Linked DNA regions of Homo sapiens. The protein of the gene in region 1 purifies or fractionates together with the protein of each later gene. This does not show direct contact. Each region holds a gene or a part of one and is shown in the gene's direction. Other genes may lie near its edges. The genes, in order: MAIP1, SPG7, ATAD1, ACSF2, HDHD5, XPNPEP3 and MCCC1.

Evidence for each region.
Region 2: the proteins of MAIP1 (region 1) and SPG7 purify together in Homo sapiens (affinity purification with mass spectrometry; one large-scale study listed by BioGRID and IntAct). This does not show direct contact.
Region 3: the proteins of MAIP1 (region 1) and ATAD1 purify together in Homo sapiens (co-immunoprecipitation; one large-scale study listed by IntAct). This does not show direct contact.
Region 4: the proteins of MAIP1 (region 1) and ACSF2 purify together in Homo sapiens (affinity purification with mass spectrometry; one large-scale study listed by BioGRID and IntAct). This does not show direct contact.
Region 5: the proteins of MAIP1 (region 1) and HDHD5 purify together in Homo sapiens (co-immunoprecipitation; one large-scale study listed by IntAct). This does not show direct contact.
Region 6: the proteins of MAIP1 (region 1) and XPNPEP3 purify together in Homo sapiens (affinity purification with mass spectrometry; one large-scale study listed by BioGRID and IntAct). This does not show direct contact.
Region 7: the proteins of MAIP1 (region 1) and MCCC1 purify together in Homo sapiens (affinity purification with mass spectrometry; one large-scale study listed by BioGRID and IntAct). This does not show direct contact.

What each region holds. Positions count from the first base shown.
Region 1 is NC_000002.12:199,958,582-199,962,384, forward strand, and holds part of MAIP1 (m-AAA protease-interacting protein 1, mitochondrial isoform 1 precursor), read left to right. Parts: intron 1-686; coding exon 687-758; intron 759-1,172; coding exon 1,173-1,299; intron 1,300-3,199; coding exon 3,200-3,347; intron 3,348-3,384; exon of another isoform or gene 3,385-3,526; intron 3,527-3,803. UniProt on the Homo sapiens protein: Promotes sorting of SMDT1/EMRE in mitochondria by ensuring its maturation.
Region 2 is NC_000016.10:89,524,841-89,529,125, forward strand, and holds part of SPG7 (mitochondrial inner membrane m-AAA protease component paraplegin isoform 1 precursor), read left to right. Parts: intron 1-1,488; coding exon 1,489-1,628; intron 1,629-4,285. UniProt on the Homo sapiens protein: Catalytic component of the m-AAA protease, a protease that plays a key role in proteostasis of inner mitochondrial membrane proteins, and which is essential for axonal and neuron development.
Region 3 is NC_000010.11:87,783,182-87,787,466, reverse strand, and holds part of ATAD1 (outer mitochondrial transmembrane helix translocase), read left to right. Parts: intron 1-2,796; coding exon 2,797-2,997; intron 2,998-4,285. UniProt on the Homo sapiens protein: Outer mitochondrial translocase required to remove mislocalized tail-anchored transmembrane proteins on mitochondria.
Region 4 is NC_000017.11:50,460,207-50,464,491, forward strand, and holds part of ACSF2 (medium-chain acyl-CoA ligase ACSF2, mitochondrial isoform 2 precursor), read left to right. Parts: intron 1-470; coding exon 471-666; intron 667-1,035; coding exon 1,036-1,164; intron 1,165-1,426; coding exon 1,427-1,480; intron 1,481-1,977; coding exon 1,978-2,096; intron 2,097-2,213; coding exon 2,214-2,379; intron 2,380-2,949; coding exon 2,950-3,045; intron 3,046-3,188; coding exon 3,189-3,346; intron 3,347-3,611; coding exon 3,612-3,703; intron 3,704-4,011; coding exon 4,012-4,088; intron 4,089-4,285. UniProt on the Homo sapiens protein: Acyl-CoA synthases catalyze the initial reaction in fatty acid metabolism, by forming a thioester with CoA. Has some preference toward medium-chain substrates. Plays a role in adipocyte differentiation.
Region 5 is NC_000022.11:17,152,498-17,156,782, reverse strand, and holds part of HDHD5 (haloacid dehalogenase-like hydrolase domain-containing 5 isoform 2 precursor), read left to right. Parts: intron 1-4,285.
Region 6 is NC_000022.11:40,929,798-40,933,750, forward strand, and holds the end of XPNPEP3 (xaa-Pro aminopeptidase 3), read left to right. Parts: 3' UTR 1-3,018; downstream 3,019-3,953. UniProt on the Homo sapiens protein: Catalyzes the removal of a penultimate prolyl residue from the N-termini of peptides, such as Leu-Pro-Ala. Also shows low activity towards peptides with Ala or Ser at the P1 position.
Region 7 is NC_000003.12:183,014,340-183,017,514, reverse strand, and holds the end of MCCC1 (methylcrotonoyl-CoA carboxylase subunit alpha, mitochondrial isoform 1 precursor), read left to right. Parts: intron 1-177; coding exon 178-249; intron 250-1,948; coding exon 1,949-2,077; 3' UTR 2,078-2,297; downstream 2,298-3,175.

The sequences.
Region 1 (3,803 bases):
TGTTCTTATCCCTGTCAAAATTCTTCAACTTGTCAGTTTACTTGTCCTTTTCCCATGTAGACTGAAAGTTCCCTGAAGACAGGTAGGATCTTAACTCACAGTTTGCTTTCTCATTGCTAGCAGTGAGGAGAATTGCAGTTGGGTTTTTCCCTCCTTGAAAATGGAATTTCATACTTCAAAGTTAGGATCTACTGTTTTAGACCACATAAACTAATGACCTTCTCTCCCACTTTCCCAAACCTACATTATCTCCCATACTGAGATTCAGACTACAGCCCAGATTTCCAGACTCCCAATGCAGTCTCGACTGTTCTCCTTTCCAACTGCTATCTATGCATGATTAAGAGGTAGGTCATATAACTGCCAAATGATTGTTTACTTCATCATTTTAAAAAGAAATATAAAGGAGGATTTTTATTGAGACATCTAGATTGTACACCACACACTATCATTTCCCGGTCCTGAGAGTGGATCCAGAATTAAAGGTCAAGTCACTTACTGCTATATATGTGGGAAGGCCATATATGAAAAGTCAACCAAGAGTCATGCCTTGATAAATTAATATTTGATGTTGTTTATCACTATTACCATAAAATAGTCTGTATTACACTTAGCCATTTAAATATGAACATGGTATGGTATTTTGAAATAATAATCCCCACACTTCCCTTAATATTTTTTTCAAGGCTTTTGCTCATGTATCCAAGTTGCTGTCACAGTGTAAATTTGATCTGTTGGAAGAACTTGTGGCCAAAGAGGTAAAGTATATTTTACATTTTGCTTTAAAAATAAATGCTATTCTCTTGCAATAGAATGATGCACATTTTCCTTATTTATGCTTAAAAATAGTGTGTGTGCCAGCATCCAAAGTAGAGTCTGTGTATCTGTTCTTATGGGTACTTTGGGTCATATAAAAGCATGGAATAACTCCTGCCACTTAAGGCATAATGAAGTAATCATGATGTCTTCCAATTGCTCTTATATGGAATGTTCTGTTAGGAATTACCTACTTGAATAATGAGATACATTTCAGCCTTGCTTTTGAGGATGAGTAAATACGGTAGTAAATTTAAAAATAGGTTTGGAAAAATGTATTCCATGATAAAGATCACTTTTTGAAAGTTTTCAAAAATTGTATCAGTGAACTAATGGCTTGCTTTTTTCAAACTTAGGTGCTACATGCATTGAAAGAAAAGGTTACTTCACTACCTGACAACCATAAAAATGCCCTTGCTGCTAACATAGATGAAATTGTATTTACATCAACAGGAGACATCTCCATTTACTATGATGAGAAAGGTAATACCAGAGCATAGTCAACTTGAAATGATCCATAATTGTCCAGATAAGCTAAACTAGTGGATAATCACAAAATAGTAGAGTTTTGTCAGGACAAGTATTTATAGAACTTCAAAGAAAATGTTATATCCATTCTTTAAAGACCTACTTCTGAAAGAGTTGAGATATGGTCATCATTTCTTAAGCCTTTCTATCTAGAACTTTTTTCTGCTACTATTTTATTCACAGTAGAGAACATCATCACTTACATTGATGAAAATAGTTTGAGTGGCTCCCACGTCTCAAATAGAAAATATTTATGTTTCAGATTTCCTAACTTGAAGGAAACAATTGAGTATTTTAAAGCTGCACTTTATATGGAAGGAATGAGGGGTAAAAGAAAATCAAATTAGATATTGTCAGCTAAAGACAATTTGAAAAGGTTAACTGCAGAACTCCCAAATTGGATCTATTTGAGAATAATGAAAAAAGTTGGTAGGAAATTTAGTGGTTATCTGGTTCTTCTTGTCTGAGGCATACATTTTCCCTATAGCATTCCTGATAATTCACTGTTTGTTCCTGATACATACAAAGTTGGCCCTCTGTATCTGGGGGTTTCGCATCCACAGATTTAACCAATCTAGGGTAAAAAATATTAAAAAAAAATAGTTGCATCTGTACTTGAACATGTGCAGTTTTTTTCTTGTCATTATTCCTCAATAATACAGTATAACAACTATTTACATTAGCATTTACATTGTGTTAGGTATTATAAATAATCTAGAGATGATTTAAAGTATACTGGAGGATGTGTGTTATGCAAATACTACACCATTTTATATAAAGGACTTGAGCATCTGTGGATTTTGGTATCCACAGGGGGGTCCTGGAACCAATCCTCCGTGGATTTTGAGGGATGACTCTATTTGCATATGTATTATGTGCCAGCCACACAGGAAATGGAGCCTCTGCTTATACACTTCCCAAGATGGAAGAAAAAGACTCTTAGTGATGATAAAATTTTTCATGCACACATTATTTTGAAATATTTGTAAAGATATTTTTAGTGATAAATATTTTCCGCTTCCCTAATATTTCAAATTGCATCTCAGCACCATGGTCACTAACTAATTTTTGCATCAGGAGTTTGTCAGAATCACCAGGCACAGTAAGGTGAATTGGGTAGAATAGGAAGCCTTTACTCTTTCTGGCAGTTGAAGTTAAGATAGTTACTGAGCAGCAAAAAATATTTTTTTTCTCCTCATTTTTGGTTTGACAACAGGTATCTGTCAGGAGATTATTATAATCTTAGAAAATGCCTGGCCAGATGTGGTGGCTCACACTTGTAATCCTAGCATTTTGGGAGGCTGAGGCAGGTGGATCACTTGAGCTCAAGAGTTCAAGACCAGCCTGGGCAACATGGCAAGACCCAGTCTCTACTGAAAATATGAAAAAATAGCCGGGCATGGTGGTGCGTGCCTGTGGTCCCATCTACTTAGGAGGCTGAGGTGGGAGGATCGCTTGAGCCTGGGAGGCGGAAGTTGCAGTGAGCCGATACTGCGCCACTGCACCCCAGCCCGGGTGACAGAGTGAGACTCTGTGTCAAAAAAAGAGAAAGAAAAAGAAAATGCCACTAATTGAAAATAATCCATGTAGTATACTTAGTAAAGTACGTGCTCAGTTAAGTAGTAGTTTTATTACTGAGATACAGAGAAGAGGGCAAGTATGCCATAAACCCTAAGACAATTTTCTAAAAATAAAATAGTATCAATACAAGTATTTTAAGTCACATCAGAATAAGCACAAAATTTGACCTGTAACAACTGTATAACTGCTGCCAATTTCTGATTTCATTTTGTTTATATGGATGATAGATTATTTTGATTTGTATTCGTATGTGTGTATATGTTTTTTCTCTAAGGAAGGAAGTTTGTTAACATCCTGATGTGCTTTTGGTATCTAACCAGTGCCAACATCCCCAGTGAAACTTTAAGAGGAGCCAGTGTATTCCAGGTTAAGTTGGGGAATCAGAATGTGGAAACTAAACAACTTCTTAGTGCAAGCTATGAGTAAGTTTAATCAGATTTCATTGTTTCCTTTCTTCAGAAAATGGAAGGTAGTGTGAAGGTATGAAAACTAAGAGATCTTTAGGAAGAAAAGAATTGAAATTTGACAAGTTATTTATGAAGAGAAAAGGTCAGAAAGACACACTGGATATGAAACAGGAGAGTTAAGAAATTAGAAAGAGGTAAAGTTGCTGAATTTAATTAAATGATGTTTTAGCTGTCTATTGCTGCTTAACAAACTACCCCCAAATTCATTGGCTTCAAACAGCCATTGACTTTGCCTGCTATTTCACTGCTCAGAAATTTTGGATAGGCTCAGTTAGGGGGTTTTCTCTGCTTCACCTGGCATCAACACGAGTGGCAGGAGCTGGAGGATTCATTTCCACAGTGACTTCTTAACTCGCATGGGTGGCACCTTGGTACTCCTTGGCTTCTGCATGACTCTGTATTCTCCAGGGC
Region 2 (4,285 bases), on another chromosome or scaffold:
CTGGGGTTGGTGTGGCCCACCCCCGGGTCTGGAAATGACCGTGGCCTCCACCAGAGCTTCTGCCCCTTTGCTGGGTTACTCAGGATTCAGAATGCTTTTTCCTTTTCTTTTGCTTTTTTTTTTTTTTTTTGGAGACAGAGTCTCCCTCTGTCTCATCCAGGCTGAGATGCAGGGGTGTGTGTGATGTCGGCTCACTGCAGCCTTGATCTCCTGGGCTCAGGTGATCTACCCACCTCAGCCTCCCCTGTAGCTGGGATGGCAGGCGCGCACCACCACACTTGGCTAATTTTTAAATTTTTTGTTTTTTTGGAGAGATGAGGTCTCACTATATTGCCCAGGCTGGTCTTGAACTCCTGGCCTCAAGTGATCCTTACACCTTGGCCTTCCAAAGTGCCAGATCACAGGCGTCAGCCACCACGCCTGGCGCTGTCTTGCTATTTTTAAAAACAGGAAACCTTGTTCTTAAAATACACCATGGCTAAGTGCAGAAGACGGTGCTCATTCACGTAAATCCTCTGGTGGATGCCTGATTATTTCAGTCTGGAAGGTTATTTTAACCTACAACACTATGCTCAGCTCTAGACGAGTCACCTGATAAAACAGCTGCCTTAAAGAGAAAATGCTCAGAATTCTGTCTTAGCAGTTTGGGGTGTGAGTGAGGGAGCAGCAGGTGCCATCCCCACCCCTCATCCCTGTCCTCTGCTGGAGTTTCCAGTTAACCTCAAAGAGAGTCCCGCAAGTCCGTCTGTGTCCTCCCTTTGGGGTGTTGCCGTCCAGTCATGCTGAAATCTGAGCTAAACATGCGGAGTTTACTTAGGAAAACGCTGCGTTTGGAGAATCGTGTGCCAGGGAGACGGACCTGTTGGTGTCCTGGTGTGAGGGATGAACAGTCTCAGGTTTTGTGGTTAAACATGAACCCTCTGTGGCCGCAGTTTCCTAAAACATCTGTTTTTGGCCGTAGTCTTGATTTTGCCATCCTCAGTCCCGTGCTGCAGCCTCGCCGGCCTCTGGGGGGCTCCTGCTGTGTCTGCAGGTGTAGCTGAGTCTGAGGCACACATCAGACGTGGGGCTGTGAGCTAACTTGCAGACATCCCTCCATTTCTTAGTTTTCCTATGAGTGGAAAATAGAAAGTCTATCTGTTGAAATTTTATTTCTCAAATTGTGGTTGAGGAAACAAATTTTTTAGACTTGGAAGTACAGATGTTCCTTGAATTAGGATATTTTCAGCTTCCCAGGGGCTCACTGGGAGGTAGCCCCATCGTAGGTCAAGGAGCTTAGTGTGCATATTGCTTTTACACCATTGTAAAATGGAAAGACCGTAAGTGGAACCGTCGTACGTTAGGAATCACCTCTAGTTTCTGAATGGTGTCCTCTTCACAATGCTGAGGTTGTCATTACCATGAGTTCCAGGCGGGCTCTCTGTTGACTGTAGGGTTGCTCGTCTGTCCCTGCGTTTCTCATGGTCCCCTCTCCTTTCTGCCCCCCAGCGGCTAGCCTTGATGTACCGAATGCAGGTTGCAAATATTGACAAGTTTGAAGAGAAGCTTCGAGCAGCTGAAGATGAGCTGAATATCGAGGCCAAGGACAGGATCCCAGTTTCCTACAAGCGAACAGGATTCTTTGGAAAGTATGTTGGATGTATTTGTTGATGCTTGAACTAAACCTAACTTGGCTTTGTAATCTGAGAAACAGATTGCAATCAAAAATCTCAAACTGTCTTTGCCTATAGTTAACTAGACTTTTTAGTGGGAGGGTTAAATAAATATAGAAGTGAATGATACAATGCCAGGAGATTTGGAAATATAGTTATCCCTGGGTATCCATGGGGGCTGGTTCTCGGACTTCCCAAGGATACCAGCACCTGAGGATGCCTAAGCCCCTGGTGTAGGATGCTGAAGTCTAAGCCCCTGATGTAGATGCCGAAGTCTCAGCCCCCGACGTAAGATGCCGAAGTCTCAGCCCCCGACGTAGGATGGCGAAGTCTCAGCCCCCGACGTAGGATGCCGAAGTCTCAGCCCCCGACGTAGGATGCCGAAGTCTCAGCCCCCGACGTAGGATGCCGAAGTCTCAGCCCCCGACGTAGGATGGCGAAGTCTCAGCCCCCGACGTAGGATGGCGAAGTCTCAGCCCCCGACGTAGGATGGCGAAGTCTCAGCCCCTGGTGTAAAATGCCGAAATCTTTGTGTGTAACCTAAGAACATTCTCTGATATGCTTTAAATCATCTGTAGGTTGATAATAATACCCAATACCCTGTAAATACTATTTCAATCGTTGTTATACTTTAGGGAATAATGACAAAAATGTGTCTGTGCATGTTGAGTATAGATGCACGTTTTTCCCCAGATACATTCATTCTGTGCTTGGTTAAACCTGCAGAGATGAAACCTGTGGCTGTGGAGGCCAACCGTGTGCAAGTCCGTTGGAGTTTGTTTAGTCACTTTCTTTAGTTGTGTGGCGCTTCTGAATTCACATTCTTGTATAATTTTCACTGACTGTGCTCTTTGATGAAAGCTTCCCAAATGGTCAGAGTGAGTGTGCAGATGCCGGAGATACCTAGTGATCTGGCCAGCCTTGTGACAATAACAACGTTCAGCTTTTTCTATTTTCAGTATATTTTGTTTTCAAAAGTAAGCGATCACTTTCAGTTAGCAAGGCAAGATCAGCCTAGCAGTAAGAAAGAAAGTCAAGGAGGACCGTGATAATGTCCTGGGCTTGCTCTCTTCTACAGACAGGAAAATGGAACGGGAAAAGGGTAGACACAGGAAGGTGAAATTCTCATTTCAGTGTTGAGAGGGAAACAGACCAGGTGGGAGCTGTCAGCACGTATGGACCATGGACCCTGACAGGTTCCTTAGTAGGACAAATGAGGGGCCAGCGGGTACTGAAACAGAGGTTTATTGTTGACTTGTAATCTCTGAAGATGTAGAATGCCAGTGACTGGCAAGTACTCCCTTGATCAAAATGTACCTCTAGCCGGGTGCAGTGGCTATGCCTGTAATCCCAGCACTTTGGAAGGCTGAGGCAGGGAGGATCTCTTGAGCCCACAAGTTCGAGACCAGTCTGGGCAGCATGGAGAACCCCATCTCTACAGAAAAAAAAAAAAGATGCACCTTTAATTCTATAACCCAGCAACACCTGGAAGATCACTGCTCTGAGGCTGTGTGTCTCATGTCTTTGTAGGCCAGTGATGTACAGAAGATGGAGGGTTGGGGCAGGCCCATTCTCGTGTCTTCGTAGGCCGATGATGGACAGAAGGTGGAGGTTTGGGCCGGGCGCGGTGGCTCACGCCTGTAATTCCAGCACTTTGGGAGGCCGAGGCGGGCAGATCACGAGGTCAGGAGGTCGAGACCATCCTGGCTAACACGACGAAACCCCGTCTCTACTAAAAATACAAAAAAAATTAGCCGGGTGCGGTGGCGGGTGCCTGTAGTCCCAGCTACTCGGGAGGCTGAGGCAGGAGGATGGCGTGAACCCGGGAGGCGGAGCTTACAGTGAGCCAAGATAGCACCACTGCAGTCTGGCCTGGGTGACAGAGCCAGACTCCATCTCAAACAAAAAAAAAAAAAAAAGAAGAAGATGGAGGTTTGGGGCAGGCCCATTCTCATGTCTTCGTAGGCCGATGATGTACAGAACAGAAGATGGAGGGTTGGGGCAGGCCCATTCTCGTGTCTTTGTAGGCTGATGATGTACAGAAGATGGAGGGTTGGGGCAGGCCCAGGGCAGCCCCTCCTCAGGATGAGGGCAAAAGTCCTGGGATTTGCTTTTTTTTTTTTTTTTTTTTGGAGTCAGGGTCTCACTCTGTCGCCCAGGCTGGAGTGCAGTGGTGCAATCTCAGCTTACTGCAGCCTCGACCTCCCAGGATCAGTGATTCTCCCACCTCAGCCTCCTGAGTAGCTGGGACTACAGATGCACACCACCACATCCAGCTAAGTTTTTTTGTATTTTTAGTAGACACAGGGTTTATTCTTACATTTTTCTTTTCTTTTTGAGATGGAGTCTTGCTCTGTAGCTCAGGCTGGAGTTCAGTGGCACGATCTTGACTCACTGCAGCCTTCACCTCCTAGGTTCAAGCATTTCTCCTGCCTCAGCCTCCCAAGTAGCTGGGATTGCAGACGCATGCCACCATGTCCAGCTAATTTTTGTATTTTTTTAGTAGATATGGGGTTTTACCATGTTGGCCAGGCTGGTCTCAAACTCCTGACCTTGTGATTCACCCGCCACGGCCTCCCAAAGTGCTAGGATTACAGGCGTGAGCCACCGCGCCCGGCCTGAGATTTGCTTTT
Region 3 (4,285 bases), on another chromosome or scaffold:
TTTTAATTTTTTGTAGAGACAGGGTCTCACTTTGTGGCCCAGGTTGGTCTTGAATTCCTGGGCTCGTTATCCTCCTGCCTCAGCATCCCAAAGTGTTGAGATTACAGGTGTGAACCACTGTGCCCATCCTCTTCCTAAATCTTTTATTTGCATATAGCACTTACTAAGTAAAGCCATTACCAAAAACATCCGTCTTAAAAAGGAGTTTAAATTTTTAAGCCTCTATAAAGCTTAAGATAATAAACACAGTTTTTATTTGTTGAAGTTGGTTATAAAAGTATCAGATTAAGCTCAAAGAACTAATTTAAAGGTTGCAAAGCTAATAATAAAAGCTAAATGCCTCACATTCATTGCAGTACTCATTTGTCACCCATCGTAATTATTATCACTGTGGAGACCATTTTAGGAAAGTATATAGAAAAGGTGCCACTCTAAATAACGTTATCTCTAGACTCACTGATAATTTGTCAGACAAGCCAATCTGAATTTTAGTGTAACTTTTTTTTTTTTTTGAGACGGAGTCTCGCCCTGTTGCCCACCCTGGAGTGCAATGGCGCAATCTCGGCTCACTGCAACCTCTGCCTCCCGGGTTTAAGAGATTCTTCTAACTCAGCCTCCCCAGTAGCTGGGATTACAGGCGTGCACCACCATGCCTGGCTAATTTTTTATATTTTGGTAGAGTCGGGGTTTCACCGTATTAGCCAGGATGGTCTCGATCTCCTCACCTCGTGATCTGCCCACCTCGCCCTCCCAAAGTGCTGGGATTACAGGCGTGAGCCACAGGAATGGGGATAAAGCAGTTTACTGAATAACTATAAGGCTAACACACTTATGTAACTACTACCCAGGTCAAGAAGGGAATATTGACAGCTTGTGTACCTTCTCTGTTACAGCCTGTCCCCAGAAAGTTAGGATAGCCACAAGCTTTCTTTGCATATTGAATCTTTAGGCACTCCAGACACTCATAACTGCTCAGTTAATAACACTAATTGTAATCCTTGAAGAGGAAAAACTTAATCCTGCTAAAAAGTAACAAAACCGATCTACTAGAAGGGAAATATTCCAAGTGATAGATGAATAATTTGAATCAAACACAACACTCTAAAATCTCTGAATATGTTTATGAAGTGGTAGAGTAGCTACAAAGTCAACAAAATATGGAGGCTTTTGCATAAATACTTTGTTCTAAAAACCTTGAAATTTAGTTTTTAAGAAAGTACCAAGTGTAACAATATAAAAACCCAGAGATTTAAGTAACATGTGTATAAAAGTTTTATAATGGATATGCATTCTATATTAAATTATGTGATCAAAATGATGAAATTAATAATTCCAAGTATCTGCAAACAGGTGGTTTTAGATTACTATTCTTTATTGTTTCATATGAGCCATCCAAAAGAAAAATGTCAGTAGAAGATTCAAATTATAACTGACTTAACCAAATTTTAAGCACCTAAGTGAACTTAATTAAAATTTGCAGAATGCTTGAAAATACAATTAACATGTATTGGTAAAGCTTATGGATTTAAATTTAAAAGTCAGCTTTAGAAAAGTTTAGTTTCATATGATTAAACTTAGATTAGTTGCTGTTAGAACTTGAATCTTCAAGAATTATAAAGACCAGTAGAAAATTCTATGTATGCTTGAGGAAGAGCTTGAACATTATTTTGAAGTGTTTGATGTGAAAAATAAAATTGCTAGAGTTATGGAATCAGGTGCAGATTTCTTTTTTTTTTTAAATTGAGATATTTTTGGGAATTTTCATACAAAATTATTTTTCCTCTCATTTTGAATTTTATTTTTATTATATATAAGAAAATTTTGGACTCCTCCAGATCCCTTCCAGTTCACCCTAGCATGCCATCTATATAGATGGCATTTTAAAAAATACTGTTTCATAGGAAAAGTTGAGCTTTGAATTAAACAAATATTTTGAGAGGTCTGCCTATTACAGTTTTTGTTAGGGCTGTCTGTAGATGGTTTATTTTAATAACCATCTTAGTACTAAGTTTAGGTGCCAGATCATGTAGTACTGAGTTTAGTAATTTGGTAAAATTATAATTTTAGTATTATATATTTAGTATTATTATATATTTAATATTATTAAATTTAGAAAATGCTATCTCATTTTAGTTGAGAAACAGTTGGTGGTGGTTCCCAAAATGTTCAAGATCCCAACCTCTAGATCCCTTGTATTAAAAGTGTTACCTTAAATTGTATTTAGCAGCAAAATGCTGTTAATGGAGACCATAGGTTAATAATATAGTTTTATTCTTTGGAAATTAAAACAGGAGTGACTGATAATTTCTGTTTCTTTTAGGAAAAGATTGTTTGGAAAAAGGCACATGTCCTTTGGCTAAAACTTAATCTGTGAGCAACAGCAAAACAGTGTTTGCCACAATCTGTTTTGAAGTTGTTTACCTTCTGTAGGCTAATATCAAAGCACTATGGTGCATTGTTTGCTTGTGAAGGTGGAGGGCCTTAGATGATTTTGTTTTTCAACTGTTGATAAAGTGGTATGAATTTGGATGTCAAGGTGAGCATTTAAACTGAACCTTTTCATGAAGGGAGAGGGCACAGGATGCTGTAATCCCCAAATACATGCTCTTAACTGACACTGAGCTTAGAACATGGCATCTTCCTTTCTTCTATCTTACCTACTATAAACAAGATTAAATAAAAGCAGAATTGAATATTGGGAAAGTTTTTTGTGGAAGGAATTACTATTCTATTGATTATCATATAAATTGAAGCAAATATCCCCTTAAAGGTAATAAATAACATATTCATTTCCAGGTGTTCTTCTCTATGGGCCTCCAGGCTGTGGTAAAACGTTGATTGCCAAGGCCACAGCCAAAGAAGCAGGCTGTCGATTTATTAACCTTCAGCCTTCGACACTGACCGATAAGTGGTATGGAGAATCTCAGAAATTGGCTGCTGCTGTCTTCTCCCTTGCCATAAAGCTACAACCATCCATCATCTTTATAGATGAAATAGGTATGCTATGTTTTCTATATGAGTATTTTTAAAGGCCATTTTTAGAGATATTTAGATAACCAGATTTAGTTTTTAACATTTATTAGGCCATGTTAATAAAACAAAGAACATAACCAACATCATAATATGCTATGTATAATTTCTGTGTTGTAGAATGAACCATAGACTATATACTCCCCTACTTGATAGATAGGTTTTTCTGTCTTTTCTCTGTTACAAACAGTATGCAGTAGATATCCATGTACATGTTTTCTCATGTATATATGTTTGCCCGGGAAAGATACCTAGAAGTTGAATCATTTGGTTGTGTGATATATCTATCTTCAACCTCACTAGGATTACCAGTTCTTTAGTTATTATACCTATTTATGTTTTCCTGCTTGGTAGTAAACTTGGGCATCTTTTAGCATGTTGATTAGCCATTTGGGTTTTCTTATTTGTGAATTGTCAATATTTCTTTGGAGTTATTTGTAGTTTTCTTTTGTTGATGTTTATTATGATTACACCTATTTTCTAGTCTATCTTTTTTCTGATAGTTTTTTTTTTACAGTTTATTATTTGGCTATAGTCAGTATTTTTCCTTTGTGGTTTATACGTTTTGTATCTGGTTTACAAATACCTTCACTATCCCCATAAATGTTCTCTTTTTAAAAATTATATATAACATGAGATAGGAATCTAATTTCATTCTTTTCCAAAAAGACAGCAAACTAGACTATCCTTTGCTGTATGTCATGACTTTTATATTAATGGACTCTTGCTATATTATGGATCAATATTTTTGTTCTGTTCCTGGTACGATGTATATATAAATATATATAGTTATACTAATACAGTATTATTAGTATTGGATATATATTTATATAGCTTTATTACTGTAGTTTTGAATTATATTTTATTATTGTTAAATTTAGTATGATAGGCTATGTAAATATGTAGAGAGAAAAATAGATACAAATATGTAGTATAGCTTTGTTTTGGTTACTTGTTTGCTTTATGTATCTTTTCTCATCAATTTACTCCAGTTATTTTGGTGTTTTGGTGTGCATCTTGAACAGAGGAATATATAGCTAGTTTATTTTGTTTTTGTTTTTTTTTAAGACAGCATCTCACTCTGTTACCCAGGCTGGAATGCAGTGGCGTGATCATGGCTCACTGCAGCCTCAACCTCCCCAGGCTCAAGTGAACCTTCCACCTCAGCCTCCTGAGTAGCTGGGACCACAGGTGTGTGCTACCACACACCACTAATTTTTGTAGAGTCAGGGTTTCTCCATGTTGCCCAGGATGG
Region 4 (4,285 bases), on another chromosome or scaffold:
CAGGAGAAAAACTGGCCCACCAAGGAGTCTAAAATCCTAAGACCTTGGATTCAAGCCCAGGGTCCAGGCACGCTTCCCTGGTTCCTCAGGAAGGACCCCAGTGACCTGTTTATTCTCCAGGAGGCAGGGGCTAGGGGTGAAGGCATGGTCCTGCTTTGTAAGATCTGTCTGTCTGCACAGGCAGGCTCTCCCAGGCTTCACTATGGCATCTCACCTTTCCCGGGAAGGCGAAGGAGGGCCCTTTGCTCCAGCTTGGTGTAACCTTGTCCCTGTCCTGCTGCCTTGGGATTAGGCTTGAGGTTGGGAAAAGGGTCTGGGGGATTTTAGGCTTACAAGAAGATCTGGAGGAAACCTAGTGGTCTCTAACACATTGTCAGCAGCCTACCCCCTGGCTTGGCTGGGTGTGCCATGCCCTTGGTTCCAGGGAGACTGATCTGGGACAGTCAAACCCATAGCTCCTCTCCCTACAGTTCCAGAGAGGTGGATCGCATGGTCTCCACGCCCATCGGAGGCCTCAGCTACGTTCAGGGGTGCACCAAAAAGCATCTTAACAGCAAGACTGTGGGCCAGTGCCTGGAGACCACAGCACAGAGGGTCCCAGAACGAGAGGCCTTGGTCGTCCTCCATGAAGACGTCAGGTTGACCTTTGCCCAACTCAAGGAGGAGGTGGGTCCTGACCTGGAAACCTCAAAGTGGGCAAGTACTAGCTCCCAAGCTGCCCTAGCTGGGCAGAACCAGGAGCGTGGGCACCTGGCTATGGGGCAATGTGCTAGGGCTGCCAGAGAACCCCGAGGGATGGCAGGAGAAGGAGACAGGACTGACGCACAAGGGGTCCAATGCCTCCTGTATCAGCAGCTCCTGGGGCACCTGTTAACTATGCAGGCCCCAGGGCAGACCCACTGAGGCTGGGAATCTGCCTGTCCCTTTGTCCCCAGTGACTGTGATGAGAACTCCGGGCTAAGGGCTGAGGGTGGGAGTCTTGGGCCCCTTCCTGCTTGCCCCCTTTCACCCCTTGCGCCCCATCTTTTACACTAGGTGGACAAAGCTGCTTCTGGCCTCCTGAGCATTGGCCTCTGCAAAGGTGACCGGCTGGGCATGTGGGGACCTAACTCCTATGCATGGGTGCTCATGCAGTTGGCCACCGCCCAGGCGGGCATCATTCTGGTGAGGAGGGGCTTGCTTGGCACAGCTTGGTGTGCATGGGGGAACATCACTGAAGGGGAGCCCCTCAGGCCCTCAGCCCCAGGATCAAACCAGTGCCTTGTTGGTTTCAAACCAGGTAGTGCTTTCTCCTGAGGCCCACCAAGGAGGTCTCTGGGAGTTAGGGGGCTGTAGAGTGCTGCCTCTATGCCTCCTGGGGGCGGAGGGGCAGCAGGAGGGACAGGGTCTGCCCAGAATACTGATATGCCCTCGCCGCTTCCACCAGGTGTCTGTGAACCCAGCCTACCAGGCTATGGAACTGGAGTATGTCCTCAAGAAGGTACAGCTCATTTGTCGGGGAGGGGCCCGGCTGGGGCCTGGCACAGGGGGCTGCACAGACTCTGCTTGTCAGAGTCTGACGGTGTGAGCTAGGGCATGCATAGGCGGGTGATACGCAGAGTGTCCTTCCTTAGGCCATGTGTGATTGGAAGGTGGCCCCAACTCCAAGGAGAGCGTGGTTGGTCAGACACAAACCTGGCGTGAGTGTGCAGGGACGGGGGCATGTGTGTGTCAGGGCAGAGGTGTGTGTGTGTGTGTGTGTGTGTGCGTGTGTCCATCCTCATATGTGATGCATATGTGTCTCAGGGTGTGGTGTGTGTGTCTCGGGGCTGGTACATGTGTGCATTTGTCTTGGAGTGTGGTGCCTGTGAGTGTGCTGGAGGTGTGTGTGTCAGAAGCGGGTGCATCTGTATGAGAGCAGCTGATTAGTGAGGACTCCCCCAGAGCTCTAGTCTGGGGCTCCCCGCTGACTGGAGGTGGGGGACTCCCCTTCCACAGGTGGGCTGCAAGGCCCTTGTGTTCCCCAAGCAATTCAAGACCCAGCAATACTACAACGTCCTGAAGCAGATCTGTCCAGAAGTGGAGAATGCCCAGCCAGGGGCCTTGAAGAGTCAGAGGTGGGTGTGTCCCAGGTTAGTGGGTGGTGCATCATTCAGCATCCCTGATTCCTTCACTTCCTACCCACCCTGCCCCCTCCCTCAGCCCCTGTCTCTCACCATCGTCCCCAACCCCAGGCTCCCAGATCTGACCACAGTCATCTCGGTGGATGCCCCTTTGCCGGGGACCCTGCTCCTGGATGAAGTGGTGGCGGCTGGCAGCACACGGCAGCATCTGGACCAGCTCCAATACAACCAGCAGTTCCTGTCCTGCCATGACCCCATCAACATCCAGTTCACCTCGGTAGGGCAGAGGTCTCCAGGCCCCAAGCCCAGATGGACACATGCCCCCTGTCCCTGTGACACTTCCGCGGGGATGGGGAGACAGCAGAGGAGAGCATGCCTTCTTTACTGAGACTGGCCTTCAGCTGTCCTCTCTGCCCTGGAAAATATCAGCACCTGGTGTCCTTGTCACATTTCCTCCCCTAGCCCCCCGCCCTCTCCACTCCAGCCCTCTTGTTCCCGGTGCAGTGGCAGATTCACTGAACCAACACAGGTTGGAACTGCTACAGGCTGCCCCTCATTTAGCTGATGAGGAATCAGAGACGCAGAAGAGAGAATTTGCCCAAGCCAGCTTGTGGGTGGCAGAGTTCTCTGGGCCATGTAAGTGGCATGAGAACGGAGACCTTATCTTCTGCATTGCTGGACCCTGACACCTGGTATCGTGGTAGACCTTTTGCAAATATACTGAACAGATGGATCTGGGGCAACAATCCCTGTCTCCTGATTCCCGGTCCCGTGCTCTTCAAGGCAGTGGCCCAGGGTGGGAAGGAGATGAGAAGGAGGCCAAGCCATGCCCTGTTTGCCTTGTCAGGGGACAACAGGCAGCCCCAAGGGGGCCACCCTCTCCCACTACAACATTGTCAACAACTCCAACATTTTAGGAGAGCGCCTGAAACTGCATGAGAAGGTGAGGCGGCACTAGGCCCAGGGCAAGGCTGCAGGAGGGGTGGCTCAGGCAGGGGTGGGGGGCTGGCTGGGCTCCCCTTGCCAGCTAGAGAGGAACTGGCGTCTGGCTCCAAGACAGACCCAGCCTCCTGTCTCCATCACCAGACACCAGAGCAGTTGCGGATGATCCTGCCCAACCCCCTGTACCATTGCCTGGGTTCCGTGGCAGGCACAATGATGTGTCTGATGTACGGTGCCACCCTCATCCTGGCCTCTCCCATCTTCAATGGCAAGAAGGCACTGGAGGCCATCAGCAGAGAGAGGTGGGCACTGGTGGACAGGCTACTTGTGGGCTGATAAAACCCTCTTCTTCCTCACTCCTGGGCCCTGACACCTTTCCAAGCTGCCTCCTCCCTCCAGCCAGGAGACTGAGGATGGGGACAGTGGAGGACCCCCAGGAGAGGACCAGTTCCTGCCTCAGGAGCTTCTCCTGCCTATTCCCTTTGCTGCAGTTTCATGGCGGGGTGGGTGAGAACAGGGAGTTCCCTTCCACTTCCAAGCCTAATTTCGAGACCTCCTCCTATACAGAGGCACCTTCCTGTATGGTACCCCCACGATGTTCGTGGACATTCTGAACCAGCCAGACTTCTCCAGTTATGACATCTCGACCATGTGTGGAGGTGGGGTGGGGCCAAGGGCAGCCAGGCTTGGGGAGGGGGCTGCTTCCCCCACAGGAATGGCCCGGGTGAGTTAGCTATGCTCCCAGTCTTTTATATAGGGGGCAAGAAGGACGCTGTAAAAATGTGGGTGGGAGGGAGGGAGATCCCCAGTGTCCCTGGACACCAGCCCAGGGCCAGCTGCCAGGTGTAGGAAAGGCTCGGGGTCAGAGGAGAAAAGGGAATGTTCCTCCCCTGAATGAGCTGTAGGTGAAAGGACTCCACTGGGCCTGGAGAATTGGGGAGCTGTGTCAGCCCTCTCTCTGATTCAGGTGTCATTGCTGGGTCCCCTGCACCTCCAGAGTTGATCCGAGCCATCATCAACAAGATAAATATGAAGGACCTGGTGGTGAGTGGTGACTGCGGCCCGGGCTGTGGGCAGGCCAGGCCTGGGATGACAGCAGATGGACAGACATGGGGATGAGTCCAGGCCAGATGTTCAAAGGAGACCCTCTCAGCCAGCCCTCCTTCCAGAAAGCAGATGTGAGAAAAGATAGTCTGACCTCATCAGCACCTGGTGGGTGAAGGAGATAGGTGGCAGGGGAG
Region 5 (4,285 bases), on another chromosome or scaffold:
TTTGAGACGGAGTCTCGCTCGCTCTGTTGCCCAGGCTGGAGTGGAGTGGCGTGGTCTCGGCTCACTGCAAGCTCTGCCTCCTGGGTTCACATCATTCTCCTGCCTCAGCCTCCGGAGTAACTGGGAGTATAGGTGCCTGCCACCACGCCTGGCTAATTTTTTGGATTTTTAGTAGAGATGGGGTTTCACTGTGTTAGCCAAGATGGTCTCGATCTCCTAACCTCGTGATCTGCCCTCCTTGGCCTTGCAACATGCTGGGATTACAGGCAGCTTTTTTCTATTAAAAAAAATTACAGGTGTGCACCACCACGCCCGGCTAATTTTTTGTATCTTTGGTAGAGATGGGGTTTCACCATGTTGGCCAGACTGGTCTCGAACTCCTGACCTCATGATACGCCCGCCTTGGCCTCCCAGAGTGCTGGGATTACAGGCGTGAGCCACAGTGCCCTACCTTAAAAAAAATTTTTTTTTTTAACTTTTGTTAAAAATGAAGACACAAACACCTACTAGCCCAGGCCTACATAAGGTCGGGTCAGGTAATTGATATCACTGTCTTCTGCCTTCACACCATGTCCCATTAGAAGGTCTTTAGGGGGCAGTCATATGCATGGAACTGTCATCTGCGATAACAGTGCTTTCTTCTGGATATCTTCTGAAGGACCTCTCTGAGGCTCTTGAGGTGTCACTCTTATCAGAAATATGTCCATTGTGGTTTGCTTGGTTTCTTTTTTTTTGTCATAGGTTTGCTTGTAAACAGATAATGTACCATAAACATTCTTCTCTAGTAATGAAAACCTTTTGGCGTTGGAGTTCATGTTTCAGACTTTTTAAGGAACTTGAGGTCTGTAAAAGCTGCTGAACCCTTCACTGTGAATTTTCTTGGATGTTCTTTTCTTTCTGTGGCTACCTTTTCTCTTGCCTCTTCTTCAGCTATGAGTTCCTGTTCCATTATAATCTTAAGGGACCATTGTATATGCAGTGTGTCATTGACTGAAACATCGTTATGGTGCGTGACTGTATTACCATCTTGCATTAGTGTGGTACATTTGTTATAATTGATGTACACCTTCACTTTTTATGGTACTGGGTGCCTGGTTCTCTGTGTACATCCTGAAGGTTGGGGAGGGGTTGGAGTGATGGGTGAGGGAGCCTTATGGATATTGCTCAATTTTCCTGAAAACTTTGCTGTTCTAAGTAGCAGGGGCTATGGATTCTTATTTTTAAGAAAGCAGATCTTGGGCCGGGCGCGGTGGGTCATGCCTGTAATCCCAGCACTTTGGGAGGCCGCGACGGGCGGATCACGAGGTCAGGAGTTTGAGACCAGCCTGGCCAATATGGTGAAACCCCGTCTCTACTAAAAATATAAAAAATAAGCCAGGTGTGTTGGCGCGCGTCTGTAGTCCCAGCTACTTGGGAGGCTGAGGCAGGAGAATCACTTGAACCCAGGAGGCAGAGGTTGTAGTGAGTCGAGATTGCACCACTGCACTCCAGCCTGGGTGACAGTGAGACTCCGTCTCAAAAAAAACCAACCAAACAAAAAAAAAAAAAAAAGGAAAGCAAATCTTGTGACTGTTTAGGCAATGACCGTTAAAACTATGTATGGTAAATTTTGCAACCATTGTACAAATGAGCTGTTTTTTAACTATGTAAGTTTTCAAAAATTCAAAAATGGGGAATAATATGAACCCCTGTGCCCATCTCCCAGATTGAGCAATGATTAACATTTTTCAACACCTGCTTTGCTTATCTCCCTCCTCCTTTTTTTGTGGCTCTAAGATTTTAAAGTAAATCTCTGATTTCTTGTCATTTCAAACCTAAATTCTTCTGTGTGTACCTCTAAGAAAAATAAGGACATTCTGGCTGGGTGCCATGGCTCACACCTGTAATCTGAGCACTTTGGGAGTTGGAAGGATTACTTGAGCCCAGGAGTTCCAGACCAGCCTGGGCAACATAGGGAGACCCTGTCTCTACAAAAGAAAAAAAAAAAAAAATTAGCCAGGCATGTGGTGGCACATACTTGTAGTCCCAGCTACTTGGGAAGCTGAAGCAGGAGGATCCTTTGAGCTCAGGAGGTTGAGGTTGCAGTGAGCTGAGATGACACTAGTGCACCCAGCCTTGGTGACAGAGTGCGACCCTGTCTTGTCTCAACCAAAAAAAAAAAAAAAAGAAAATAAGGACATTCTGAACATAACCACGATGCCAGTATCATACCTAACAACATTAGTAATTCCTTAATATCACTTAAAATCTAGGCCTTTTAAAAATTTATTTATTTATTTTTTGTTTTTATTTATTTATTTTTTGAGATGGAGTTTCCCTCTTGTTGCCCAGGCTGGAGTGCAACGATGTGATCTTGGCTTACTGCAAACACCATCTCCCGAGTTCAAGCAATTCTGCCTCAGCCTTCCGAGTAGCTGGGATTACAGGCATGTGCCACCACGCCCAGCTAATTTTGTATTTTTAATAGAGACAGGGTTTCTCCGTGTTGGTCAGGCTGGTCTCGAACTCCCAACCTCAGGCGATCTGCCCACCTCGGCCTGCCAAAGTGCTGGGATTACAGGCGTGAGCTACTGTGCCCAGCCAAGTTTCTTAAAGAAACACTGTTTCTTAAAAAAATTGTTGGCTGGGCGCGGTGGCTCACGCCTGTAATCCCAGCACTTTGGGAGGCCGAGGTGGGCAGATTGCCTGAGGTTGGGAGTTGGAGACCAGCTTTGAGACAAGACTAACCTGGGGAAACCGCATCTCTGCCAAATACAAAAATTAGGTGGGTTTGGTGGTGCGCACCTATAGTCCCAGCTACTTGGGAGGCTGAGGTGGGAGGATCGCTTGAGCCCAGGTGATGGAGGTTGCGGTGAGCCAAGATCACGCCACAAAAAAGTGTTGGAATCACCCAGTCCTTAAGGGACTTACTTTCTAAGAGCCACTCTTTTCCTTCAGAAAGGGATAGGGTGGTCGGGAAGTATCTATTTCTCCCTAACCATTTATCCTTTGGGTCATTCAGCATCCAGTCAGCCTTTGTCAATCACCTGTGAGTCTAAGCACTGTGTCAGGTATGGGGGTAAAGGGCAAATCACATCCCCTCCTCCCTTTAAGCCCAGGTAGTGATTCTCCTTGAGAAGAATAAGAAAATGAAATCCGAAAAGTGCTATGGTTACTTTTCCCAGGAAAAATGCTTGTAGTGTTTAAAGGGGATTTATGGCCATCCTGAAATCTATCTGTGGGCCTAGGTTAGGACCCCCATTCTAGTGAGATTTCTTGGGGAATAGGGAGGGGCTCCAGGGATCCTTGAGGGTACATGAGTGTATTGAGGAGAGAGAAGAAATGGAACTCACAGCTGGGAGCTGGCAGGAGGTGGGGGAAGCAGTCCTGGGGTCCCCTGTTTTCTCTGAGGTGCTGCCGAGTTGCCAGCTGAATTTGAGACTGAATCCTGAATCCAGCACTTGTGAACTGGGTGACCCTTGCTGAGTTCTTTTTGAGGTTGATGCCTTATTTGTCCAGTCAGGTAATTTAGTGCCTGTATATTGAACACCTTGTATAAACCGGCACATTTTGCCAGGCAAGGCCATTTGGAGATGCTGACACTTCCTCAAAGGGCTGCCAAAAAGAATACATAAAAATGCCTTTGTTACATGTCTGGCTGAGTGCTTGGGACAGTGACAGGTCTGGGTGCAACAGCATAAGCCTGTGAAGCCAAGGGTTAGAGGCACCATTTGTCCAGGCATTTCCTGTGTGGCGTGTGGGGCTTGGTCAGTTTTCTCTTGGCAGCTGTTTTTTGGTGTTCAGGTGTGATATCTTGTTGGCTCGAGTTGCTTCCTCCTGTTTTTCCAGGGTCCCTGCCCTCCTCCTGCTTGGCTCTGTAGCTGTCATTGTCCAAGCTTGGAGGGCTCATGTACAAGCTAACATGGAGGAGGAGCTGGAAGATTGCCTCTCCCGGGGGTCTTGCCTGTTCAGTGGAAAGAAGATGGGATCATTACAGCCACTCCAGTCCCTGTTTTACTGGACCCGAGACATACCTCAGCTTCCTGGACCCCACACGCTCTTGGTTTTCCTCCTTGCACTGTCTTTTGCTGGCAGGTCTTGTGTGGTCCATTATTAAGTAGTATTGTTCTTCCTGGTTCTCTGAGAGGCGAGACCTTCCAAAATTTTCATCTCCAGGACCTGTCCAGTGCTGATGTCTCCACTTGCCTGTCTCCCAGGTCCAAAGTGGGACTTAACCTTGTATCCTCCAATGACCTCTCGCTGCCCGCTCCTACTGTGCCCTTTGGTTCAGTGACTCATACCCGCA
Region 6 (3,953 bases), on another chromosome or scaffold:
TTACTCATTCTCAGCCATGCCGCAGACATACCCATTTCCCTTTAGTAATTTTTTAATACAGAGAATGCTATTAACTGTTACTGGATATCAAATAATTTTATTTTTCTAATAGTATTTTCCAAATATTTCTTAAAATTCTTAAAATTTAGGTTAAAGTTTGCTGGTCTCTTACATTTAATAAAGCTGGGACTTGAAGACTTACCATAGTTTTCAACTGCCTTTGCAAGTTCATAAACTTCTAAGGGTAAAAAGTGAATAAGATAAATTCAGAGTTTTAAGGTAAAGGCTTTATATTAGCTTTTTTTTTTTTTAAAGGTTTTTTGTGGGGTTTTTTTGTTTTTTTTTTTTTTGAGATGGAGTCTCGCTCTGTCACCCAGGCTGGAGTGCAGTGGCACGATCTTGGCTCACTGCAACCTCCATCTCCCGGGTTCAGGCAATTCTTCTGCCTCAGCCTCCTGAGTAGCTGGGACTACAGGCGCGTGCCACCATGCCCGGCTAGTTTATTGTATTTTTAGTAGAGATGGGGTTTTACTGTGTTAGCCAGGATGGTCTCAATCTCCTGACCTCATAATCTGCCCACCTCAGCCTCCCAAAGTGCTGGGATTACAGGCGTGAGCCACTGCACCCAGCCTTTTTAAAGTTTTTAATTGACATATAATTGTACGTATTTACAGGGTAAATAATGATGTTTTGATACATATATAATGATCAGATCAGAACAATTAGCATATCCATCACATTGAACATTTATCATTTATTTGTGTTGAGCCTTTAGTTCTTTTTTTTTTTTGAGATAGAGTCTCACTCTGTCACCCAGGCTGGAGTACAGTGGTGTGATCTTGGCTCACTGCAACCTCCACCCACCGGCTTCAACCAATTCTCCTGCCTCAGCCTCCCTAGTAACTGGGATTACAGGCACCTGCCACCACACCCAATTTTTGTATTTTTAGTAGAGACGGGGTTTCACCATCTTGGCCAGGCCAGGCTGGTCTTGATCTCCTGACCTTGTGATCCACCCACCTCAGCTTCCCAAACTGCTGGGATTACAGGCATGAGCCACGGCCCCCAGCCAGAGACAGTCTTGCTTTGTCGCCAGGCTGGAGTGTAGTGGCGCCATCTTGGCTCACTGCAACCTCCAACTCCCTGGTTCAAGCAGTTCTCCTGCCTCAGCCTCCCAAGTAGCTGGGATTACAGGCACGCACCACCATGCCCAGCTAATTTTTGTATTTTTAGTAGAGACAGGGTTTCACCATGTTGGCCAGGATGGTCTTGATCTCCTGACCTCGTGATCTGCCCACTTTGGCCTCCCAAAGTGCTGGGATTACAGGTGTGAGCCACCGTGCCCAGCCGAGCCTTTAGTTCTAAGTATAATAAATAATATATATACCAGGCATTCCTATTAAAAATCTTAACTTAAAAAAAATTACTCAAATGTTACTACTGGAATTTTTCTCCCTGAATTGAAGATACATGGTTAGATCATTAACAATACCACCTAAATGAAGGAAACATATCTGGATATCCAGTGTCACATACTTTTATGTATTTATTTCAGGAATTACTATTTTGTCACCATAATTAGGAAACAGACTGTGTTCTTTATTTGAAACACAACAGTATAAATACTATAGTAAAGTTGGGTGCAGTGGATCACAGCTATAATCCCAGCACTTTGGGAGACCAAGGAGGGATGGTCACTTGAGCCCAGGAGTTTGAGACCAGCCTAGGCAACATAGAGAGACCTTGTCTCAACAAAAAAATTTAAAGTTAGCCAGGTGTGGTGGTTTGCACCTATAGTCCCAGCTACTCAGGAGGCTGAGGTGGGAGGATCGCTTGAGCTTAGGAGGTCAAGGCTGCAGTGAGCCATGATTGTGCCACTTCACCCTGGGCAACAGAGAAAGACCCTGTCTCAATAAAAAAGAAGAGAAAAACTGGAGTGAGAACTCTCCTCCTCTCATAATCATAGTATCCACGTTAGGAAAATGCTTCTGAGAGTAACTTAAAGTACTGTGTGTGCATCTTCCTTCAAAACCTTGCTTTTTTCTCCGTTTTTGTAAGGTGAGAAAGGGAAAAACCTTCACCGTAGAAATACTGTCTTGAGATTAAGATACAAATAAAACATGTTAAACCTCCATCTAAAGACATTGCAACTTATTAAAACAGAAAAATGTACCTTTGTTATGTCTTTCCAAATATCCACACCCACACCCTGTTCAGCTTTGTTAATAATACAGAGATCAGAAATGTGAAGCACAAATGCTGCTTCTCCCCCTCCTGTTCCCATGTCAGAGATGGAGAAGAAAGCACAGTGAGCTGTTCACCAGTCCAGCGGTGACCTCGGAGTCCTTTGTAACAGTGTTTCCAATAACTTCTGCCAATAAAACAGAATTTGAGTTAGAACCTATCTGCTGTCCCTCAACTAGTGTCTGATAGCTGAGAATGTAATTCGTTTGTGTGTCTATTAGAAAATTAGGCAGGCACCACAGACAGTAGCAACATAAAGGAACCTGCTTAGAAGAGGTTTTTATGGTGTGATTGTGTTTTTTTTTTTTTAATTTTTGTTTCCTGAAGTAGAATCCATAGCTCAAAACAAGTTTTAAGCCTGAGAAAATATAATTTGAGGTGTTTTTTATGCTCCTAATGAAAAGATGAATGAATGCATCATTAAACCTTAACAGTAGAGCAGAATTTCACTGTTACAAACCACATGGGTTCTCCTGGTTGTGCTGCTGTTCTCTACCTGTGTGTCACTGAGTTTGAGCATCATTATTGTTTGAATCAGAGGACCCACTGGAATCAAGGCTTCTTGGAATTGCGCAAGAATCTGAGAAAACTTCAATCTTTACCAGCATTTCTTAATGCTTTCCATGACTTTTGTGCAATTATATAAGTTCAGTTTAGACAAAATGCTGTTACTTTTTAAGGCATTACTAATAACTGAAAATAGTTACGTCATTGCCCATCAAGGGAAAAGCACTTGTAACTGTCATTTAAAAAAAATAAAACTATAAAACAATATAGAGGGGTATGGTGTGTGTGTGTTACTTTAGAATCTAGAGTTTACGGTCTATTTAGTATAAACAGTATAAACGTGAGACCATCTGGTTTTACAAAATAATTTACAAAGTATTCATTAGCTGCTGTCACAAAATCATGATAGCAAACTTGAAATGATTTTATCAGTCTTATAGAGGAAGAATCTGGTGGATTTGATCCAGCCTATTAAAAGGTTGGCACAAAACTGACTGAAAGGTCTCCAGAAAGTCCCCATAACACTCAAGACTGTAAACTGTAGCCATGCACATTTTATGAAGGATGAATTTTGTGGGGAAATAGGATCAAGTTGCAAAATTATGAATATTTGACCTTTGTCAACCATATAATGAATCGTAAGTGTAGCCATCTCTCTCTCCCTGTTAGGAACCATCTTTAAAATCTGAGACTGTCTATGAGGAGTACCTTTAACATTTCTCACGTTCTGGCAGGCACAAAAAGATACTTTGTATGGCACAATGGAACAAATTTGAGGGGGCTGAGTGGTAAGTACATATGACTTGTAGAAAAAAAATTATTATACATCCTTTAACTATGATAAGAAAAATATGTACAGTGAGCCACCATGGCTGACCAACAAACATGAAATTTCTTATAATGGGAATGGATTTCTAATCCAGTTGAAATATTTTATATCAAATATTTCAAAATAAGCTATAATTTGCAGCATATACATGTATTGTTAGAACAGTCACCCTGCTCACAGACTCCACTAAGAAGTACTTCATCCACAAAAGTCGTAAGTATCCAGCATATGTAAAGCAGAGATCTGGGCTGTCTGAGGCTGCATCTGGAAGCAGCCCTGGCCCAGTCTTGAGCCCCCATGACACCTATGGCTAGCAGCCCTTACACATCTGAAACACCAACCACTCTAGCTAAATTCCATGACATCCTTGTCT
Region 7 (3,175 bases), on another chromosome or scaffold:
AAAGGACCTCTGTGTTGTTTTTTTTCTTTTTATTTATGTTTTATTGTTTATATTCATGGTTTGCAACATGATGTTATGAGTATATATAGACAGTAAAATGGTTACTATAATGAAGCAGATGAACATATCTAGGACCTCTGTGTTTTCAAATATTAACCTGTCACACTGAATCTCAAGGTGTTTGTCAAAGCTGGAGACAAAGTGAAAGCGGGAGATTCCCTCATGGTTATGATCGCCATGAAGATGGAGGTAAGGAAATCATGAGTTCATTTGCTATGAGGACTTTGGGAGCAATCATACCTAATGGTTCTTTTGCCTTATTTTGTAAGTTAATACCACCTTAAATATGAAAAGCCATGATTGACGAAGCATTAATTGTAGGAAACAAAACCAAACTATCCTTCTTGTAGAAAAGAGTTTTACTTTAACTTTGTGAAATTGCACCTGTCATTTCTGATTCTGAAATTAATGAAATTATCAATAGCTTGGAATCAGGCGATAATCCAACTGAATGTTAACTGTTGGTATTTTCTAAGATAATCCAACTGAATGTTAACTGTTGGTGTTTCTGGAATGTTAACTGTTGGTATTTTCTAATGTTAACTGTTGGTATTATCTTGGTTCTAAGGCCGAACCAAGGATGCCAGGCATCAGTTTCAAAGTGAAAACCGCAATCAAATTAAATTAGCTGTTTAGGTTTTTAGATGGTTCAAATGGTAGGTCAGTGATTCTTAGCCCTGGCTGAATATTGCAGACAGTCCTCAACTTACAATGGTTCAATTAAGGATTTTTCAGCTTGACAATGGTGCAAAACCATACACGTTGAATATGCTCCTCAGCTTACATTGGATTTATCTGGACCTGACCCCATCGTAAGTCAAGGAGCATGTGTACAGTCACCTGGGGAGATTTGAAAAAATTCTTCCCCAGACCCATTGAATTGCAATCTCCAGGAGTAGAGCCCAAGGATCAATACTTTTGAAAGGCTGGGCGCAGTGGCTCATGCCTGTAATCCCAGCACTTTGGGAGGCAGAGGCAGGCGGATCATTTGAGGTCAGGAGTTCACGACCAGCTTGGCCAACATGGTGAGACCCCATCTCTATTAAAAATACAAAAATTAGCCAGGCATGGTGGTGCATGCCTGTAATCCCAGCTACTCAGGAGGCTGAGGCAGGAGAATTGCTTGAACCTGGGAGGCAGAGGTTGCAGTGAGCCGAGATCTTGCCACTGCACTCCAGCCTGGGTGACAGAGCGAGACTCCGTCTCAATTTAAAAAAACAAACAACAAGGCCAGGCGCAGTGGCTCACGCTTGTAATCCCAGCACTTTGGGAGGCCGAGGTGGGTGGATCATGAGGTCAGGAGTTCAAGACCAGCCTGGCCAACATAGTGAAACCCCGTCTTTACTAAAAATACAAAAATTAGCCAGGTGTGGTGGCACACACCTGTAGTCCCAGTTACTTGGGAGGCTGAGGTGGGAGAACCGCTTGAACCCGGGAGGCAGAGGTTACAGTGAGCTGAGACCATGCCGTTGCACTCCAGCCTGGGTGACAGAGTGAGACTCCGTCTCAACAGCAACAACAACAAAAAACAAAAAAAAAAAAACAAAAGCAAGCAAACAAAAAACTGTTGAAAGCTTCCTAGGTGCAATTCTCATGTGAAGCTCAAGTTGAGAACTGCGAGCTACACCAGAGCTTCCCAGTCATATCGTTGAAAGGTTACTGCTGTGTCCCAGTGTTCATTCCTCTCAACTTGTTACTGTTCTCCCTGTGTGCTGTGATGTTAAAAATAAAAACAACAACAACAACAAAGCGTTGGAAAGCACCGAGAGATGACAAAACATCAAAGTTGGCTACAGTTTTCATTTTTGGTCTCCCTTTCTTGACTTGGTGTATACTCAGTCCTCATTAGTATTGCAGCTATCATTTGTCCTGTCATGTGTCTCTGCAGCATACCATAAAGTCTCCAAAGGATGGCACAGTAAAGAAAGTGTTCTACAGAGAAGGTGCTCAGGCCAACAGACACACTCCTTTAGTCGAGTTTGAGGAGGAAGAATCAGACAAAAGGGAATCGGAATAAACTCCAGCAAGGAAATGGCCAGTTAAGTAGTGTCTTCTCTCTCCACCAAAAAGAGGAAGTGCCTCCAGCTTTTCTGGGGGTCTCATAAAGAGCAGTTTTACTAAATGATTGTATGCTTATGCTGAACACCTTTCATATTGGAGAATCATGCATTTGGGTCACTAATTATCTCAAAATATTTCATACTAATAAAGTTGAATTATTTTTTATTGGAAGCCAATGTTTGTTTCTGCCTCAAATTTTTTACAAGGTAGTCTCTTTTAGGAAGGGGGGAAGAGAAAAGGACATTTAATTAAATGAATTACTTTCCAGTTGCTGTTATGATGAAAATGAGCAGTAATATGTTTCAGAGACAGGTGCCCTGGAGTTCAACAACTAAGGTTTTGTCTGGCCAAAAAGCAACTTGCTAGGTAGTTTAAAAGACATGGATATTAGTCGGGCGCGGTGGCTCACGCCTGTAATCCCAGCACTTTGGGAGGCCAAGGCGGGCAGATCACTTGAGTTCAGGAGTTCGAGACCAGTCTGGCCAATATAGTGAAACCCGTCTCCACAAAAAATAAGCTGGGTGTAGTGGTGAACATCTGTAGTCCCAGCAACTTGGGAGGCTGAGGCAGGAGAATCGCTTGAACCTGGGAGGCAGAGGTTGCAGTAAGTCGAGACCGCACCACTGCACTCTAGCCTGGGTGACAGAGCGAGACTCTATCTCAAAACAAATACATAAATATAAATAAGTAAAGACACGGATATTGTTTCTAGTGTTTGTGATTGGAAAGTTTCTAACTAGATTGCCTCTGCCTTTATTGTACTTTCTAAGCTTATAAAAATATATGTATTATATATCTATTACATGCTAAAATATATTAATATTTAATATAACATTTTGGTAAATTTGAAAAGCATAATTTTACAGAAAAAGTTGGTAAGAGTTAAAAGCCTGAGCCTGCTGAATGCTTTTTTTAGAAATACTTTTTTCATTATGAAGAAAAACCATTCAGTTTACTTTTGTCTAGATTCTGTGTTACTTTTACTAACAGATGTGCAGCCCTTTGCATTTTTATGTATTCATTGAAGTGTTAAATATTTGTTGAATTGAGTTCT